2 separate regions of the Homo sapiens genome follow, and region 1 is linked to region 2. Evidence: fine-mapped expression QTL. A gene starts in region 2. The other region holds a variant in brackets. All regions are shown on one strand. Distances are from middle to middle.

What was found.
Region 1: its variant is fine-mapped to the expression of STXBP5-AS1 in whole blood (TOPMed, PIP above 0.99).

Annotation. Positions count from the first base shown.
Region 1 is chr6:146,860,182-146,869,192 of GRCh38, forward strand. It overlaps STXBP5-AS1 (STXBP5 antisense RNA 1), which reads right to left. Exons shown (of 11, transcript NR_034115.1): 8 at 437-562. Among named protein-coding and RNA genes, the nearest start is that of ADGB, 270 kb to the left of the region's middle. The variant G/A (reference allele first, on the strand shown) is at 4,260.
Region 2 is chr6:147,201,020-147,210,030 of GRCh38, forward strand. It overlaps STXBP5-AS1 (STXBP5 antisense RNA 1), which reads right to left and starts at 3,595. Exons shown (of 11, transcript NR_034115.1): 1 at 3,394-3,595. It overlaps STXBP5 (syntaxin binding protein 5), which reads left to right and starts at 3,398. Exons shown (of 28, transcript NM_001127715.4): 1 at 3,398-3,663; 2 at 4,952-5,049. The coding sequence starts at 3,514. LOC124901422 (a long non-coding RNA gene) reads right to left here and starts at 2,552. Exons shown (of 2, transcript XR_007059803.1): 1 at 1,797-2,552; 2 at 857-1,274. RefSeq lists silencers at 2,581-3,000, 3,031-3,080, 3,101-3,180, 3,351-3,540.

The sequences.
Region 1 (9,011 bases), 340 kb before region 2:
CCTGTCTGTGAAGTTGGCCCAGACTATTTTGTTACAGAGGCAGGGTCATGTTCAGAAGCAGGCGCAGGAATTAAACTAAAACATAAGCAAAAACCCTCAATGAGTCAGTAAATTGGTCATTCATCAAGTTAATTTTAACAAATTGGCTTTCAACAAATTGGCCTGGAGCCCTACTTTGGCACCTTCTTCTGGAAATGTCTTCTTTTCCTCTTTTAGTCCTTTTCCGTTCAATGTTGTACTTCACCTAGACCTTGAGATTATGCCATTCACAATTATAATCTCAACATTCATCACTTGCCTTGGGAGGTACAGACTTAACTGTTGGCTGGCTAAACGTTTATGTGGAATCTTAGAGGACTTGTAACACTATTTAATGAAACACTCAAAACATTCAAAGTCTAAAGGGGGATGGTGATTTGGAAATAACTTCTCTTACCTATTCCTACCTGCCCTCTGGCTTCATTCATGGTCATAGGGCCTCAGTTTTTGGACAGAGAGCACCACCATTTTTGGCCATGCATTCTCTTTTTCCACAGCCCGTTTATATCCATCTGGTCACCACCTGCCAATGAAAAGTAAATAACAATGACTGCTCCCTCCACTGGCTTCTGTCCCTGGGGTGAATGGCCAGGAGTTTGAGCCACTGCTGGACAAGAGCCGTTGATTGCTTGAAGGCTGGCAAGGACAGCAGAGCCCTCATAGTGAACTGGCCTCTGCAGGAGAGAAAAAGGGATAAGCAGACATGCTGCACTGAGATTAGCTTCCTGCCAATTTCTCCTGAATTTTCCTAAAATAAAAGTGCATTTTCTTCCCAGCCTGATTACATTTCAAAAGCCCTCTTCTACTAGCACAGCCTTGGTAGATGCTGGACTCTAGAGAGGATTAAAGGTGGTGGGAATGGTAAGGATGGTGAATCCGGGATTAAAATTGCCCTGCCACACATTGGGTCAGAGCAAATATTTGTGAAGCTTGAGTTATTTGCAGTGCATCATTATGGTTTCTGTATGGGAAATGCCAAGTTATACTTCGATGTGCAGGGAGATAAAAATATATTTACCAACACAGGGTGTTATGTGTTAAATGGTAAGGTGCCAGAATGCTCATAAACTTGACCAGTACAAGGATGTTGTCAGAGGTGGTGTGGGAAGCAAAATTGTGGATCAGGTGCTGAAATGATTAAAGAAGATGGAAGACTGAGCTGACGACAGTATGCATTAATTAATGGAAAGGTATGGCCTGAAATGTAAAAGAGGAGATGTAGTTGAGTAAGAAGTGCAGCATCCTTTCATCTATCACACTGGAAATCCAGCAAAATCTGAGACCAAGTGACTATTTAAAGTCAACTATATAGAACTCCAGAGCTGGGGATGATTTATCTGCAGGAAGAAACCAGCTTTGCTCTGGGCTAAGAGTGAAAGCATATTAAATATGTAGCCTTTTAAAGAATCATATTTCTGTATCATCTATACATATATATATATACACACACACACACACTATTTCATATATATAATGGATTAAAGCAGATCATAACATAATAAATATCAAATTATTCATGTTCCTCTTTTGAGCCTCATTCTGCAGAAGGAACACTTTCACGCTTTAAAAAAGACAGGATCACCTCTGATCTATGAACCATTTTATTTCAAATACATCTTACTGTTACAATTTGGCCTACTGCTTGGTGGGGAAAGGCCTTTCCACGTTTCACTCACTGCAGAGCAATCCAGCTTTCCTGTGATATTCATCTGATGTTTATATCCATCTTTTGAAATATAGGGGCTATTAGATCAGAAATATTCCATGAAGAAGGGAGCAAAGATTCATGTCACTGACAACTGGAGAAGAAACAGAGAAAGGGTAATAATATCGTGGGACAGAATGGAGTCCCTTCCAGATCTTTGGAGGGCTAGCACCATATCCTTCCCAATCATTTATTGCAAGGCTAACTAAGGTCCTGAAGAGTGGGCCCCTTCAGTCTGAGGCCAAGAGGCCGCTGACCTACCCTGATATAGACCAAACTGTGCTTAGTTTCCCTCTGGAAGCACCAGAATAGCTGCACTGGTTGTACTGTGTCATTTCAGAATGCTGACCTCAACCCTTAGCCCATTTGTTTGCTGACACAATAGTTCTTTTTTTTTTTTTTTTTTTTTTTTTTGAGAAAAATAAATCTTTGTACTGCAGTTAGAAATAAAGCTTAAAGAAAAATCACTGGGATTGGTGACATGTTGCTTTAAGTTAAAAAATGGCTCTGCAAGGTGGGTATCCAAACCTTTGCAGCTGTTCTCCATGCAAGAAGAACAACTCAAGAGCAGCATGTCATGGGCAGCTCCCAGGAAAGGAGGAGAGAGGCTGGAGGCACCAAACCCATCCAAGCACTCAGTACTTGCAAAGGCGCTGGTCTCCTTTACTATCCAAACACCTTACACTTTCTAGGAATTCAATACACACGGATTAAAGCCCAACTTACTAAAACTAGTTATTTAGCATTAATAATTTGAATCTTTAAGTTTTAGCTGGTGAAGGACTATATAAGTTTTTATTTGAAAATCAAGCGTGTTTTTCTTTCTTTCTTTCAAATCAGGTACTCATGATGTGTGACAAATGGCATGCCTCCTGCAAGAGTTATGAGTTATGTGCCTAAACAGGAAGGATCATCTCATTGCAGAATTAGGGCATCATCCAGTGGGAAGGGAGTTTCAAGGTCATTTAGTCCAGCCTCCGAGTGATACAGAAATTCTCTTTGCAGCATCCCTATCACGTGGCCATCAAACTTCTACTAGTGTATTCATCCACACCTGGTCTGTCTAAAACCTTGAGAACAGCCCCTTGTATAGTTCAATAGCCCCAGCTGAAGGAAAAGTTTTTGTTATTTTCAGTAAACATATTCTGTTGTGTAACTTTGGTTGATCGGTTCCCCTTTAGCGACCCAGAAAACACTGAGCTCCCTCTGACACCCATGCCCTTTGACTGAAAGTCAGCCATAAAATAGAGCACCAGAGTAACTTTCCAGAGTCCCAGATTTGCCCCTTCGCTCCACTGCAAATCAAATGTGTGACCTGTGTTTCAATTCAATTAGCCTTTTCCTAAGGGTTTCACTGTTTCTGTTCCTGTGAGTTTCTTTTTTAAAGATCTGTATTTGTATATTTCAAGTGGAATTTTTTTTTTTTTTAGCAAACCACAACATTTTATTTTAAATTGAGAGATATGGTTTGATTTTTATTTTTATTGTGGAAAATTTCAAACATACAAGAGTAGATATAATATAGTAATGAATGCCTTAGTATTTGTCACCCAGGTGTAAATATATCAAATTGTGGTCAGTCTTTTTTTTTTTGAGACGGAGTCTCGCTCTGTTGCCCAGGCTGGAGTGCTGGAGTGCAGTGGCGCCATCTCGGCTCACTGCAAGCTCCGCCACCTGGGTTCACGCCATTCTCCTGCCTCAGCCTCCCGAGTAGCTGGGACTACAGGCGCCCGCCACTACGCCTGGCTAATTTTTTCTATTTTTCAGTAGAGACGGGGTTTCACGGTGTTAGCCAGGATGGTCTCGATCTCCGGACCTCGTGATCCGGCCGCCTTGGCCTCCCAGAGTGCTGGGATTACAGGCGTGAGCCACTGCAGCCGGCCAGTCAATCTTATTTCGTCATTACCCTCACCCCTGCTTTCTCCTCCCTGGATTGTTTTGAAGCAAATCCCACATACCATACAATGTCAGCCGTACCTTCTCATATGAACCTGGGAGCAAATTCTCCAAATGACAAAATCAATGGAAGACATTTGGGGGGCCTTGCCCTTATAGTGGGTGCTGGAGTTACAAAGGTGAATACAATTGTGCCACGTTTCGGTCTTTTTGGAAAACACTACCCCTCATGTGTCTGTAAAAATTGACTCTTCTTTTTGTGCTAACACTTCCTTTTTTGGCCAAAATCTTTCTAAAAATAGACAGCAAGCCCCCTCCTGCTGCCTGTTTCTTAAACTTTCCTCTCATGAAGGTGAGCTAGGATTGTACAATTACAATGCTTTGAGAATTTTGTTCCTTTTGAGCTGTCTTTACTTTTCAAAGCCTCTAGTCATGCTATTGGACCTATCTTTTCCTCTAATAATTAAAAAAGTCTCTATATTGTGTTATTCTCTGTCTTTTCATCCCAGTTTACTATGATTAACGTGGTTACCATCTCCCCAGGTTCTTCCCGTTCATTTACCTTCACCATTTCATTTCACCTTGCATTTCTTCCCAGTTGCTCAGACTTCACTTCACA[G/A]TAGTAATTTTCTTTTTCTTTTTTTGTACCTTCTGAAAGGGCAGTCTAATGACAAAGTCAGTCGATAATTGCTCAGAAGATCTGTATTCACCAGAAAGAGTCTTTCTGCTGATATTCAGAAGATCAAATTTTAAGCTCAGCATGAACCAAGATCCAGTTACACTGCACACACACAAACGGAAAAACCACCATAGTATGTATGAGGGAAAGATCAGACCATACAATCATTATGTGATAATGTATTAATAATAGATGGTATAATGAACCAAAAATTAGCTTGGCAACACTCCCAGGTACTTTTCATAAAATAATTTCCATAACCTGCTTTGCCTATGAAGAAGGGAACACATTATCCCACAATTACTTGGGGGTGGAATGATTAGCGTGGGTCCAGGACGCGGCCCGGGGACTCTGTGGTTGGCCTTACACCTTTCCAGACAACGTCCTTGGCCTCTCCCCTACTACAGCATGTGTAGCTGTGTGTGGGATGGAGGCTAAAAGCCTGGTTATGCTCCACAGAATGAATTCTTATGTCCCTGAGCTCTTCTCAGAAAACATGCAGGGAGTCTCTGCCAGCTGCAGAAGTTCAGCTCCTAGGAAGAGGGGATGAATTTCTGTGTTTTATTTCAATGGTGTAGCATGAGTGTGCAGAGCCAACAGTATGATAACTGGTGGTCCTCACGTATGTCTTGGCTACATCATCCTGTGACATGGTCCTGAGGCTGACCAGGGGATGGAGCTGACCGTCAGAGCCCCAAATTTAGCATGAGGCATAGCCAATATATGGGACAAAGGTCAAAATTTATGTCACAAAAGGTAACCTGGGACTTGCCTGTCACTGCAGATCCTGCACTCTACAACATAGCAGTGTTTAGTGCCTGTTTAGGTTGTAAGGGTCATCAGGTCTTCTAAGGAGTCACAGCATATATAGCTATATTTTCTGAATATAAATCTATGTGTTAAACGAAATGACACAGGACAGGTCATGGAGAGCATAGAAGAACTGTGTTTGGAGACTCATAAGTGCTCTGGTCTGGGCATCAGAAACTTGATACAGTTTGCATCACATCCAGGAGGAAGGATCATTCAGGCATTTGGATTTCGTTGCATTGCTGACATCTGTCAGAAACCCAGCTAACAGCCATTGGCATGAACAGCACAGTTAAAATGAAATGGATCTATTCCATGAGAAGCTCAAAACTGTAGCTGGTTTACAAAGTGTTTTTGTCTAGCCACATGCATCATCAATTTAATATTTCAATGTTTCAAGTTTATTTCCATGAATGAGATTTCATTTACCCCCACACACTCACTTAACCTATTGAGTGGTTCTAAGTTATTAACAAATACAGTCGCCAAAAAGGTGATTATTTTAGAAAGAACAGAGAAAACCTATCAGTTACATCTTTATTTATCTTAGACTTTTAGGCAGCGCCTCTAGAAAGTGCTGAGCAGAAGCTTAATATGGGAGTGAAGAAAACCAACTTGTTTATCTACCTCTAAGTCACAAAGGCTGTTCTGCACACAGCTATGAACTTCTGGGAATAGAAAAGCCACTTAGCAAGTTAGCAGGTGAGGTCAGAGTAGACGCATATTCTCTGGGCTCATAAATTAGCCAAGGAAGAGACGACACCCTAAATCATCTTTATGGGGCCTAAACTGTAGAGTATCAAAAGCAAATGCATATTTAGATGTAACATATTTGCCAAAATAATTGGACTTTTATTACATTTCCCCTGTGACCTTAATGACCTTGCATATATTTATCTTCCAACTAGACAACATATTTGTGGATACGTGTTACTCACACATAGGTTTCTGTTAACACTCAAACTGAACCACTCAAAAGGGGTGTCATTTGTGAAGTCCAGGGAAAATCATCATAAAGGCAGCTCTTAACACCTAGGTCACAGGGAGGCTTATTTGCCTAAAAGAAATGCTCATGTTACAAAGGGGTCCTTTCTGCCATTTTTGTTTGAAAACAGACTCCTCTAAAATATGCCGATATCTGTAGAAAAGGAGCAAGAAGAGTTCCCCTCCAGAGGCTGCTCCCTGGAGAGTCACAGAGATCCTCGCATTTCTCCCATAGTATTCTTCCCAGGCTGCCCATTTCAGCGCAGCATTGACCAACACGTTTCAAGTCCATAAGCACTTCCAAATGTTGAATTAGAGAATCTCATAATATATCCACAGATTAATCGAACTAATGATATTCATAGGTAGCCAGGATGGGTCACGTTTTTCAGCTTGTAGTTAAATAAAATCACATCTCTTTCTCTTGTATGCCTCCCCTCTCAATTAATTTTTCAGTTCCCACAGTTTGGTTTTTAGAAAAATATCCAGTATAACCTATTCAGGTTCCCTCCTACTGCCTTGTCCAAGAACACTATGGACTTATTCATTCCAAAGGGTTCATTCTGTACAAGAACACTAGGCAGCCGGTTGAAGAGAGAAAAAACTGGAAAGTCTGGTCAGTGTACTAGTTACTGATGCTGACACCAGGCTCTACTGCTAGAAACTGGATCTGCAGAATCTGAACCAGCCCTCCCTGGCTAACACTCAAAGGCTTTTGGTTGCACCAAAGTCACCCGGGCAATTGACCACATTCCTTCTTGTAGGTTTCTCTTTGGAAGACTTGGTTTCCATTCTTGCCAACGGATCTTTAAGTCATCCAGATACAAACTATCCTAACTTCAAACACAAAGTTCAGTCCTCGGTTCCTTGCTTCCCTGAAGCCCCAAGGATTCCACACCATTTATTTATTTAATTAATTAATTAATTTATTTATTTATTTATTTATTTTTTAGGGCACAGAGAGGGAAGCCTTCAAGTAGCAGAAGGCCCTGGTCTATTCTTTTCCCAGAACAGTTGAGTGTCTCTTCAACCTACCTAGGTATCACCAAGCTTTGGGTCACCCTATGCAGAATCAAGAATCCCCACTCCAAGAAACCTCATCATAGAAGACAGCACACTTGGAAAGGATCCTACTCCACTCAATGCCCAGTGACACCTGCCATTCTTTTGCTTTGCACAGATTTCTTAAAGTGAAGGGTGGAAATATCTCTGGATCATGTCTTTGCTCTAGTCTCTGTTATTGTGTTGTAATCTGAGAAAAATCATTTATTTTCTCCATTAAGAGTAGACTAGGAATTTTCTAACTTACCAGTTTAGTAGATCAGAAGTTTTTAAAGCTTTTCTTTAGCCTCAGAATCCTTTTTATTCCCTACATTTTACAAGTATGAACTTTTACTATCATATTCTCAGGTGTTCCTGAGCCATAATCTTACTTTCTGAAAGCAAATTTTATTTATTTTTTAAATGTTATGTTAGGTTCAGGGGTGCATGTGCAGGTTTGTTATATAGGTAAACTTGTGTCACAGGCGTTTGTTGCACAGATTATTTTTTCACCCAGATACTAAACCCAGTACCCAACAGTTATTTTTTTCTGCTCCTCTCCCTCCGCCCATCCCTCACCCTCAAGTAGGTCCCAGTGTCTGTTGTTCCCTTCTTTGTGTCCCTGTGAGTTCTCACCATTTAGCTCCCACTTATAAATGAGAACATGCAATATTTGGTTTTCTGTTCCTGCATTAGTTTGCTAAGGATGATGGCCTTCAGCTCCATCCATGCTCCTGTAAAGGACGTGATCTCATTCTTCCTGAAGCCAAATTTTAACATATGACACAGAACCCCCAATTTTTCTTAGGTAGAGAACTTAATCTAGTCAATCCCATTTAAACCTAATAAATTTTGTTGATGTCTCTATCATGCTGGGTTGAAAAATCAAGCACACTGAAGGCTATTTGCCATTTTCTACTTCCTCACTGAGAGAGGAATTTTATAAAATTAGAGGCAGTATCTCAGAGGAGAGGTAGGACGCTTTATGATTTTATATTTGTATCCCTATTCTAGCAAATGTTCTGGAGTTCGTTTATAGAACCAGCTTCCCCTCTGCACACAGAGGGTCGTGCTCAACCCACCCTTCCAGTTCCCATCTCATCTGTTGCGACTTTGAATGCTTCTTCTAGAAGACCAATTGCCGAGGCCTGTAGGCTCCACTGGCCCAAGGGTAAAGAGACATGGGCCTGCCCCATTCACTCTCTGTATTGCTTTGGCCATTCATCTAATCTCTTTGAGTTTTGGTTTCCTCGCTAGTAAAATAAAGAAATAAGATGGTCTCAAATCTTCTCCCACTTTTAGAATTATACATCTGATGAATTATGAACACTCAGATTCTTGGATTCTTCCAAGTCCTTTAAAGCAAACCCTATTACTCCTTGCAAGTAAATATTAGACAACCTCAACCCCTATCAATTCTGCAATTTACATGCAGTTCAAGTAGCTGAAGCATACTGGGCTTGCTGCCACTTACTCTAACCTGTTACAGTGATCTTTGGACATAAAAGTTTTGTCTGTTTCATTCTAAAATCAACAACATGAGGTATTGCAGAGCCACAGGGTAAGAACCTGGATATGAGAATGGAACAGCACTGGAAGTCAGCCAAGCACGATTTGTATACTAATTCCAGCTCTGAAATGGACTAAACACCCCGGTTTCATCACTCACAACTCCTGTGCCTCATTCTGATCACCTGCAAAGTGGACATAACAATGCGCTCACTACCTCCCTCAGAGGATGGTTGTGAACTACTTAATCCCAGACCAGCCACCAGGTGCCACAGCCAGAAGGTCACCCCCGTTCCAGAAAACTCTTTATTCCTGGTAGGGAGTTCTGACATCACAGAAGACTTTGAA
Region 2 (9,011 bases):
ATTCATTCAAATAAAACAAATAAACACAACTTTTCTGAGAAATTATGATGGGTAAAATTCTCTGTTTTGTGCTCAATTTAAAAATGAATAATATAGATTATTTAGTTTAATGTATTTAATTCTAAACTTAAAATGTTTAATTCCAAATAAAATTCTCAAAATTTCAGTTCTAATTTGAAAAAACAAATTGATTAATTCTAACTGACTTATAAGAATTACTGTGAGTTTGAGGATCGATTATTTTACCTTTGCTATAATAAAGGTCGTTATTTTGGGCCATTGTTGGTTTTGGCCATTTGGATTTTCGGATAAGTCCCCGTGTCTCTGAGCACAGAGGATGGACTGCAAGTTCACAAAGGTAGGCTATATCCATCTTAAATTCCAGGTATTCACTAAGAACTGAAATTTTGAGAATGTCAGAATGAGTTCATAACCTGATGGAAAAGATAGAGTATAGAAATAAAAACAAACATTCTAGAGTCAGAAGTAGGAAACTGGCTTAAATTGGTGACTCTTTGAAGTCCCCTTTACCTCAAGGACCCTGATAGAATAGGAAACTGACATTTTTGAGTGTCTACAGAGTACTAAGCAATGCAGTACAAACTTTTCATATTCTTTCTTTTCCCCCTCCAGTTCATGCTCATAAATTTCTAAGAAGGTGGTATTAATCTCATTTTAAACCTGAGGAATCTGATCCCTAGAAAAATTTAAAATTTGCCCAAGATTACACATATTACCATGGCCTGGACTGAAGTTCATGGCTGGCTGACAACAAAGCCTATATTTTCCCACTACACCACAAAGCCTCTCAACAAGAAGTTGTCTTTTTTTTCTAGAAAGTTTTATAATCCAATGATGAAAAATTATCCAATAGATTTATTTTAGACCTAGGTAAGTAAAAAGGCAGATCATACAATTCTATGGGGTTGTGATCTGTCTGTTTTGCAATTTCCCCCTGTGGAATCACATGTACTTTTAAAAAGCTCTCAAGGTAATTCTGAGGCTCTCTTCCCCATTGTCTTCCAATGGTCTTTGCCTCCTGTTCGCTAGGTCTGCTCCTCCTTATCCGGCATGATCTATGGTGGGCGTCACCATGTCCAAGCCTTCCTGGCCAGTTAAGTGGCCCTCTGCCGTCCTCCTTCATTATTCCATCATTGGACTCATCACATCGTTTTACAATTACTATTTATGTTAAAAGTCGTCTCCGTTAGACCGTAGTGAGCTTGCTGAAAGCAAGGATTGCATTTTCGTGTCTTTAGTACCTAGCACACCGCCTGACAACAAAATGTTAGAGAACTAAATTAATAAAAAATTCAGAGCCACTTGGAAATAGTTTAGGAATGTCCTCACATTTGTTTTCTTGGTCGTTGCACCCAGCGAATCAACTAATTCAATAAATATTAAACGACAAATCAAAATTTTGTAGGTTCCAAATGCAAGACATCGTCCTGGGATGCGGAAGCTGCAGAGTGGACTACATTTCCCGAAATCCCTGGGCCCAGTCGTAGTTGGTTCGCTGACTGCTTTTGAATGCTGGTTAACTCAACCAATAGGGTGACGAGAATTTCCCTAAAGGAGAGGGAGCCGACCTCACAAAGAAGAGGGCGGGTGCTTCTGACAGGTTTGGAACTTAAAAAAACCCTTTGTGGCGGTTCCGTGGCTTTTCCGCAGACCAGAGCGCGCGAGGAGTCATTCGCTAGGAACCTGTCCCCCTCTCCCCGAATTAGGATTAGTCTTCCTGCACTTCCTTCCTTCCTTACGTCTTTCCTATTTCCACATCCTTCCTAATCAAGTACCTGTGCTTCCGTCCACCTGTCCTGTTGAACGCACTCTCCGGGGGGTTTCCCCGGCACAATCTCTTGTCTGTCTTTTCCAACTTGAGCCAGGCATTTGTCTCCAAGCATTCACGCGAGATGGGCAGTGCGGCCTCGGAAAGATCTGAGCAAAAACTTCATCCTATCCCCCTTTCCCCGTTCTAGAGTGAAGCTCCCAGGGCATTACTGAGTGGCTCATCAGCGTCAGGGCAGATTGAAGGTTCTGAAAAATAGTGGCAGCGCGGCGTTTCCTGCCACCCGCGCTCCTCCCCGGCGAGGGGCTGGGTGCGGGGTAGTGTCATCGGCCCGGGCTGACACCGGCCCTGGAACCGTTCCCCGCTGGCAGCCTCTTCCATCCCAGCAGCTAACTGCTAAGACCAGACACGTTCCACCAACAGTAACAGCTGTAGGAAAGAACCCGTTTTTTCCCGTCTAGGTTTCTCTCCTTTTCCTAGTACCTAAGTCCATCATCCTCCTGCCACTGACATATCGTTGTCTAGACGCTCTTTTTCAAAACTCAAATCCAATCAAACAAAAACAACGCCCGTCAATAAAGCAAGAAAAATAATACTGCAGCCAGCGGCCAGGAGCGTGCACCCCATTAACGGCGAGAAAGCATCAACCCCTGCTGTAATGACTGAATTGGAAAGAAAGGTTTCCTGCTGCTTGTTAGTCGTCAACATTTTTACTATGCCAGCTGCAAGAGAAGCAGCTGCATACTCTGGCAACTCGACTGGGGTGGGAGAAATTTAGCCAGCGTCTGGGATTTTCGCAGAAGATAATTTAAGCCCCAGCTTCGCTCGGGCTGGGGGGCTGGGGGCCTGCTGGGCCAGGGTGGGGGAACCGGGCTGCGGCGCGCATGCGCAGGTACCGCAGCCCGGCTCCTGGGAGGCCCTGCTGCCGCCACCGCCGCGGCCCGCGCTGTAACCGCGGCTGCCGCTGCTGCTCCGGGCGGGCGTTGGTGCCGTGTGCCGAGGCGCCCTGTCAGGCGATGGGGAGCGGCTGGGCGGGGAGAGCCGACGGCCGCGGCGGCGCCTGAGGAACGCAGCCGGGCTCGGGAGCGGCGAGGGCGGGCCGGTCCAGCGGCGGAGGAGCGAGGCGGGGCGAGGCAGGCGGCGCGGGGACCCACACCAGGCGCCTTGTGTGCGAGGCCGAGCGGCGGCCGCGGACAGAGAGCCGGCGACCCCCGGCAGGAGGAGAAGGAGCCGGAGGACGCGCCGAGGGACTGCGGGGCCGGGGCGGGCGAGCAGCGGCGCGGCCGCGGGCCATGGACGCAGCGGCGACGGTGGCGGCGCCGGGGGCGAGCCGGGGCGGCGGCGCGGCGCAGAGTCCGCCCGCGGCCAGGTGAGGCTGGGCTGAGCGGGCTCGGGCGCCGCCGCCACTGCTGCTGCTGCTGCTGCCGGGCCGCGGAGCGAGGCGGCGGCGGCGGCGGCTGAATCGGCACCACAGCAGCCGCGCCAAGCAGCGGCGGCCTCGGAGGAAGAGGGGTCGCCGCCCAGGTTTCTTGCGGCCGCCGCTCTTGTCGTCGCAGTATTTCCTGTTCGGATTATCTTTTGCTTCCCCCCAGCTGCCTCCTTACCCTCACACTCCCACTCCTCCGTTTCCGCGGTCGAAGCTGCCTTCGGCCCCGGGTGGTCTCCCCCGCCCGGGGACCCCCTGTGCCTCCCCTCCCGGGCTGCGGGGGAGCCCCTCCGAGACCATGAGGAAATTCAACATCAGGAAGGTGCTGGACGGCCTGACCGCCGGCTCGTCCTCGGCGTCGCAGCAGCAACAGCAGCAGCATCCGCCTGGGAACCGGGAGCCGGAGATCCAGGAAACGCTCCAGTCCGAGCACTTTCAGCTCTGCAAGGTGAACGGAGCGCGCAGCCCCGCGACACCGTCATTGAAAAATTGGGGTTGTTTTAAGGGGGCTACTCGGGCTTTACATGGGAATGCAAGGGAAGAGAACGCCAATAATAATAATAATAACTCTAATAAAAGGCTCGCTCCTCCCTTGGCAAACGTTTCTTCGGTGGGTTGTTTTGGAGATTGATACCTTACTCCTTTTCATTGATTTTTCTCTCTCCCCTTTGCACATGCAGCAATCAGTTCAAGGTTGCTTCAAACTATTATCCGACCTTTAATCGTATTCTGACACTGCCAGTAATAACCTGGAAGCTTTTATATTCAAGCGTTTTAATATGATTCACCAACTTCGAAGTTTCCTTTGGAAACGGTGTCTAATGAATGTTGTTTATCAAAAAGCCAAACCTGTTCTACCACACCTTTGCTCATCACTTTTCCCTTAAAATGTGGTGTAAGTGGCTTACGATATGAAATCACAGGGTTCTTTTTATCATTATGTTTGTTAAAAAGTACTGAGATTTTTGCCTGTTAATGGCACGATAATTGCCATAGCGTTCTGTAATTCAGAAAGAATGATGCAGCGAATTAAGTCACCAGCTGCTTAATGAGAAACACAAACTTGCCTCGGTTTTAATACCTGCCTTTCTCATAAATAGCCATGTATTTGTATGTCAGAGTTAATTAAAAGTGTGCATATATATATATATATATATATATATAGGTCTAATGCCCTAAAATGATTATGGCCTTAATAGTAAATTGCAAAAATGTATGTTGTACTCATCTTCATTCTGTTACAAGTGTAAAATGTTGGGATAGAGGTTTGATTATTGCTCTACTGAATGCTTGACTAAAGTAATTATATGACAGCTTTTCCTTAGAAGTACTTGCGTTAGCATCCAAATAAAGTAATGATGAAATGAATACTGCCAAAATAAAGTATGAATTGCATTTAATGGGTTTACAGAATTTTGGACCATTGCAAACTTTAGTCATCTGGTGTCGGATGTAGTAGTATAGAATATTAATAAAAGATTTTCTTCTATGGAATACCAGTATTATGGAAAAGCGAAATTAAAGTATATCACTGGACTAGATTTTTGTTTGTTTCAGGTTCTATGTGAATAACTTTGTTAATGTAGGTTTCACTTATTTTTTCAAAAGCAGTAAGTGCATGTGTATGTGTTTTGCATCAGTGGTAGTGGTTCTAAATTCTAACGCCTCTATTGACTTTCTATTTTAAAATTTCGCTTGCTGCCTTGGTTGCTGTGATGTCACTTGCCCATCCCTAGACTGTTCGCCATGGATTTCCCTATCAACCCTCAGCCCTGGCCTTTGATCCTGTACAGAAGATCCTGGCAGTGGGAACTCAGACTGGTGCTTTAAGGCTGTATCCTTTCTTTAATTTTATTTTTTAACTTCTACTTTGTTCTCCCCAGTCCTTCTGTGTTGCTGATTAGTTCCAAAGAAAGTTTTTATTTTCCTGTTGGTGTGATTAGATATATACTATGAGAAATCATGTGTTGGCTTTTCCCTTGATTATAATTCAGCTTATATACTGCTGTGATGTTTCTCAGCTCCTAGTTTATAGTAGCTAAACATATATCCAAATAGAGGTCTAAAGTTTTTTTATGATAACTATTTTATTTGTAAGGAGATAGAAGTTTCTAAGGAAAAATATATCTGCTTCTATACTATTGGTGTGATGAATGAGGTATGTTAAGGATGAGGTTTAAAGACAATTACTTTTAAAAATATTATGCATGGTAGATATTGAACTTATGACCTATTCTAATAAATTAGAGATTGGATTTCAATCTGAATTTGGTTGTTTTTGGCATGTCCGTGTAGAAAAACAATTAGCAGAAGTGTAGCAAATTAATTTTCTATGAATAGTTATAAATGGTTAATATTTCTACCAGTTTTTAGAGCGTTTTCTTGAAAAATGCATGGGGATAAATTTTTTCTCTTGATATACTTTTTCTCTCATAGTCTACATTTGTTATGTATTTGTAAAAACTGTTAGGTTACTATACATTAAACTAGTAGTATAGAATTACTTTTCCTGGTTGTGTATGAACTATATTAGTTTTATCAAGCATTTTTTTAAATACTTCAAAAGATTTTTTTCAAGATAATTTTTTAGTGAGAACAGTACAGACGACTCACTTTCTATTTTTATGTTGAAATGTGTTTTCTTTTACTGTGACTTTGAAACATACTTAACCTAAATATATTCTTAAACTTAAGATTTGGATTCATCTATCTGTGGGATATCTACCTCCTGCATATTAATGAGTAATGTGTTGGTGATAAATAGAAAAAAAAAATCACTAGATGATTTCAGTAGACATTACTATTGTCAAAAAAAAGAAAAGAAATATACGATAGGGGAGGAGCTTTACCCCTTTATATTTTAGATTTTTCTGGTTCCTGAGAAGGAGTGAGGGAACCTGCATTTGAGTTAAACATGTGCCAGGCATTTTACTTACATTTTAAAGTCATTATTTCAAAGAAGTACTATGTGATACATACAAATATATATATATGTATAGATAGATAGATAGATAATGCCTCAAGTTTTATTTGTCACTTAATGTGCTATCTTCAAAATGCTAATAGAAGTTTTAGGATGGACTATTGAACTGTGTTACTAAGTGAAGTCTACTATACATAGTAAATACTACGCAGTCATACCTTTATAAACGACAAAATCTGACCAGGCTAGATCTGAATCTGTTAATTTCTGAGACGGTGTGTCTGAAGTGCTCTTGCCCAAATATCTAGATAGTTATGACCAGAATGTTTTTTGGCTTCAATTGTTAGATATTTTTATTCCTGAACTCAGTGATCAAGACCATCTAGTTTAGGGTTGTGTGAAGACGGGAATGAAGTTATTTTGTCAGTGTGGGCCCTGAGTGTTCAGCAAAACTCTGTAGTGACGAGACTAGTACAGCGTTGGATCTAGATGCATTCTTTGGAACTGAAAGCAGTTTCTTTTTTTTCCCAACAAGATAATTTCATAACTGGACTAGAAGAAGGAAAGTAAAGTTGAATTAAATCAGCTATTTTTCCCTTATTTTGCTTTTCTGTAAAATGAGTTTAGGTTTTATTGTTTTCCCAGTGTGGTCTCGACATTCTTTTGGTAAATAACCTCTTTTCCTTGTAACATCCAATCTGGCCCTTTTATAATTTAGTATAATTATAAGTGAGTACCACCAGCAAGGCTGATTTTATAAAACCAGATTCTTAGACAACACTTTTACCCTAATGCATTTGTGTAATTAGCAAGTTGGCACAAAAGGTGTAAAGCGTTAGGCCTAGTGTGAATTGCCAATTAAAATCAAGGATCAGGTGGCCAAAATTGTCACTTGTATATAACTTTTGGTGTACTTTCTATAGTTAAATATTATGTGAATAAAAGTGAACCTGTAATTATAGTTTGCAATTATACTCTAAAGTTTTTTTTTAGAACCTCCTTACTAAGAATGAAGTATGGAAAACTGTTTACTAAATTACCTTCTACTTTGCCTTTTTATGAGATTTCTATGGACATTCCAGAGTGCTAAATTGGCTTGCTTGCCAGTAATACCACCTAGTCATTCCTTCTGTTGGGTTTAAGTAGCAGATGAGCTTATGAGCTTTATTTATTATGGTTCTGATTTATAGAAAATGACTAAGCCCTTTTTATTTTATCTCATTTTCCATATATGTGCTTTCAGGTATATGTTAGTGTCTCTTTCTTTGTTATTTTTGAAACTGGACACCTAAATTCCGAATCTCCACATTTGGTTAACGTGCAGATTTACTACAAGTGTGTATATTTTGACTTGGATCTTTTGTATATTTTCCTATTGTAATTGGTTTCTTTTGATCCTTTATTCTCTTCTTGTATTAGACTCTTGTAGTCTGTAACACAGTTATCCTAAAAGATATCATTAGAGCAGAAAATAGACTTCTAGATAAAGTATTTTCCTTGCAGATTGAAAAGTAGGCGATGTTTTCAGAAGTAAGATTAGGCTATTACAATTCCAAATGTGTATGTAATTTGACTGATGAATATCTTCCTAAATGTTAGAAGACTTTACTAAATTGATTTATCTACTCTGGGTTAAAACCAAAAAATCAAAGAAGAAAGATATATCTGATAGCTAATGTTTGTAGACAAGGATTAGTGAAAAATCTTAATCCTTTAATAATACATAACAAATTATGAGGCAAAATAAATTAAATGTATTTACTACATTAATGTATAGCAAATGACATATGATATAAATATGCTGAATGCTAAACCTTCTTGGCTTCTGGAGAGAATATGAGATTGAAGAATGAAGGTATTTTTAATAATGTTACTGTCTTTATCTAGACTTCTGATTTACTACTAAAATTTCAAATTGCTTCATACTTTAATCATGGGTTACCCTGATCTTATTTTTAAAGTAAATTTTTTTTCTAAACACAATGAGGTCATTATATATATGAATATTTCAAGGACTGAGCAGAAAAATGGAATTTCAGGTTTACTGAACTTGTGTAAAAATTTGAGGTTTAAAAATGAATTGTCAAATTATTATCGAAGAACCTCATTCATTGTCTTCTTGACTGGTGGAAAATACAGTGAAATAGACAATCTCTGTTTTGATGAGGCATGGATTGTCTTTTAATGCAGAGTAATGTTGCTGGAGACAGGCTTACAAAGTGATTTTTTTACCTTACAGTTGATTTAACAAGCACTTGAGTGTCAGACAACATTAGATTATAAATTGTGGCCTGAATTCTGGTTCTTCGCTTTCCACTAAATAATTACATGTCCTTGAATTAGTTTTTTTTTTCCTTACTATAAAAATGAAGGTGCAGTATTAAATGATTTCTTCAAGGAAGAATTTTATGATTTCAAGTAGCTATGTATTCTAGAGGAGTAATACAAAAGAAATGAAAATGTGATCCTTCCTTCAAAAAGTTTCCAGTTCTAACCAAAGGACTGGAACTAAATAAGCAGTTGAAATTTGAGAATTATTTGGGGCTCTACTGACATTACACAAAGTCAGGTTACATGTAAATTTGTTGCATTTGATGAACATTTCTATACATTGGTAGATAAGTATTCAGAATGACAGGGAGGAAGGAGTGGGAAAATTATTCTAGGCAAGGAAAACAGTATGGGCAAAAGCATGGAAAAGGGAATTATGCGAGTTTGGAGGAATACTAATGAGGCTAGTTGGAATAATTGAGTTAGCAGGAGAAATAAGGAGGCTGTTGAGGGTCTGCAATTTTAACCTGAGGTATCTGCATGATATTCAGTTAGGAATCATAGTTATGTAATAGGAGATGCTGACAGGAAGAAAGCATGAT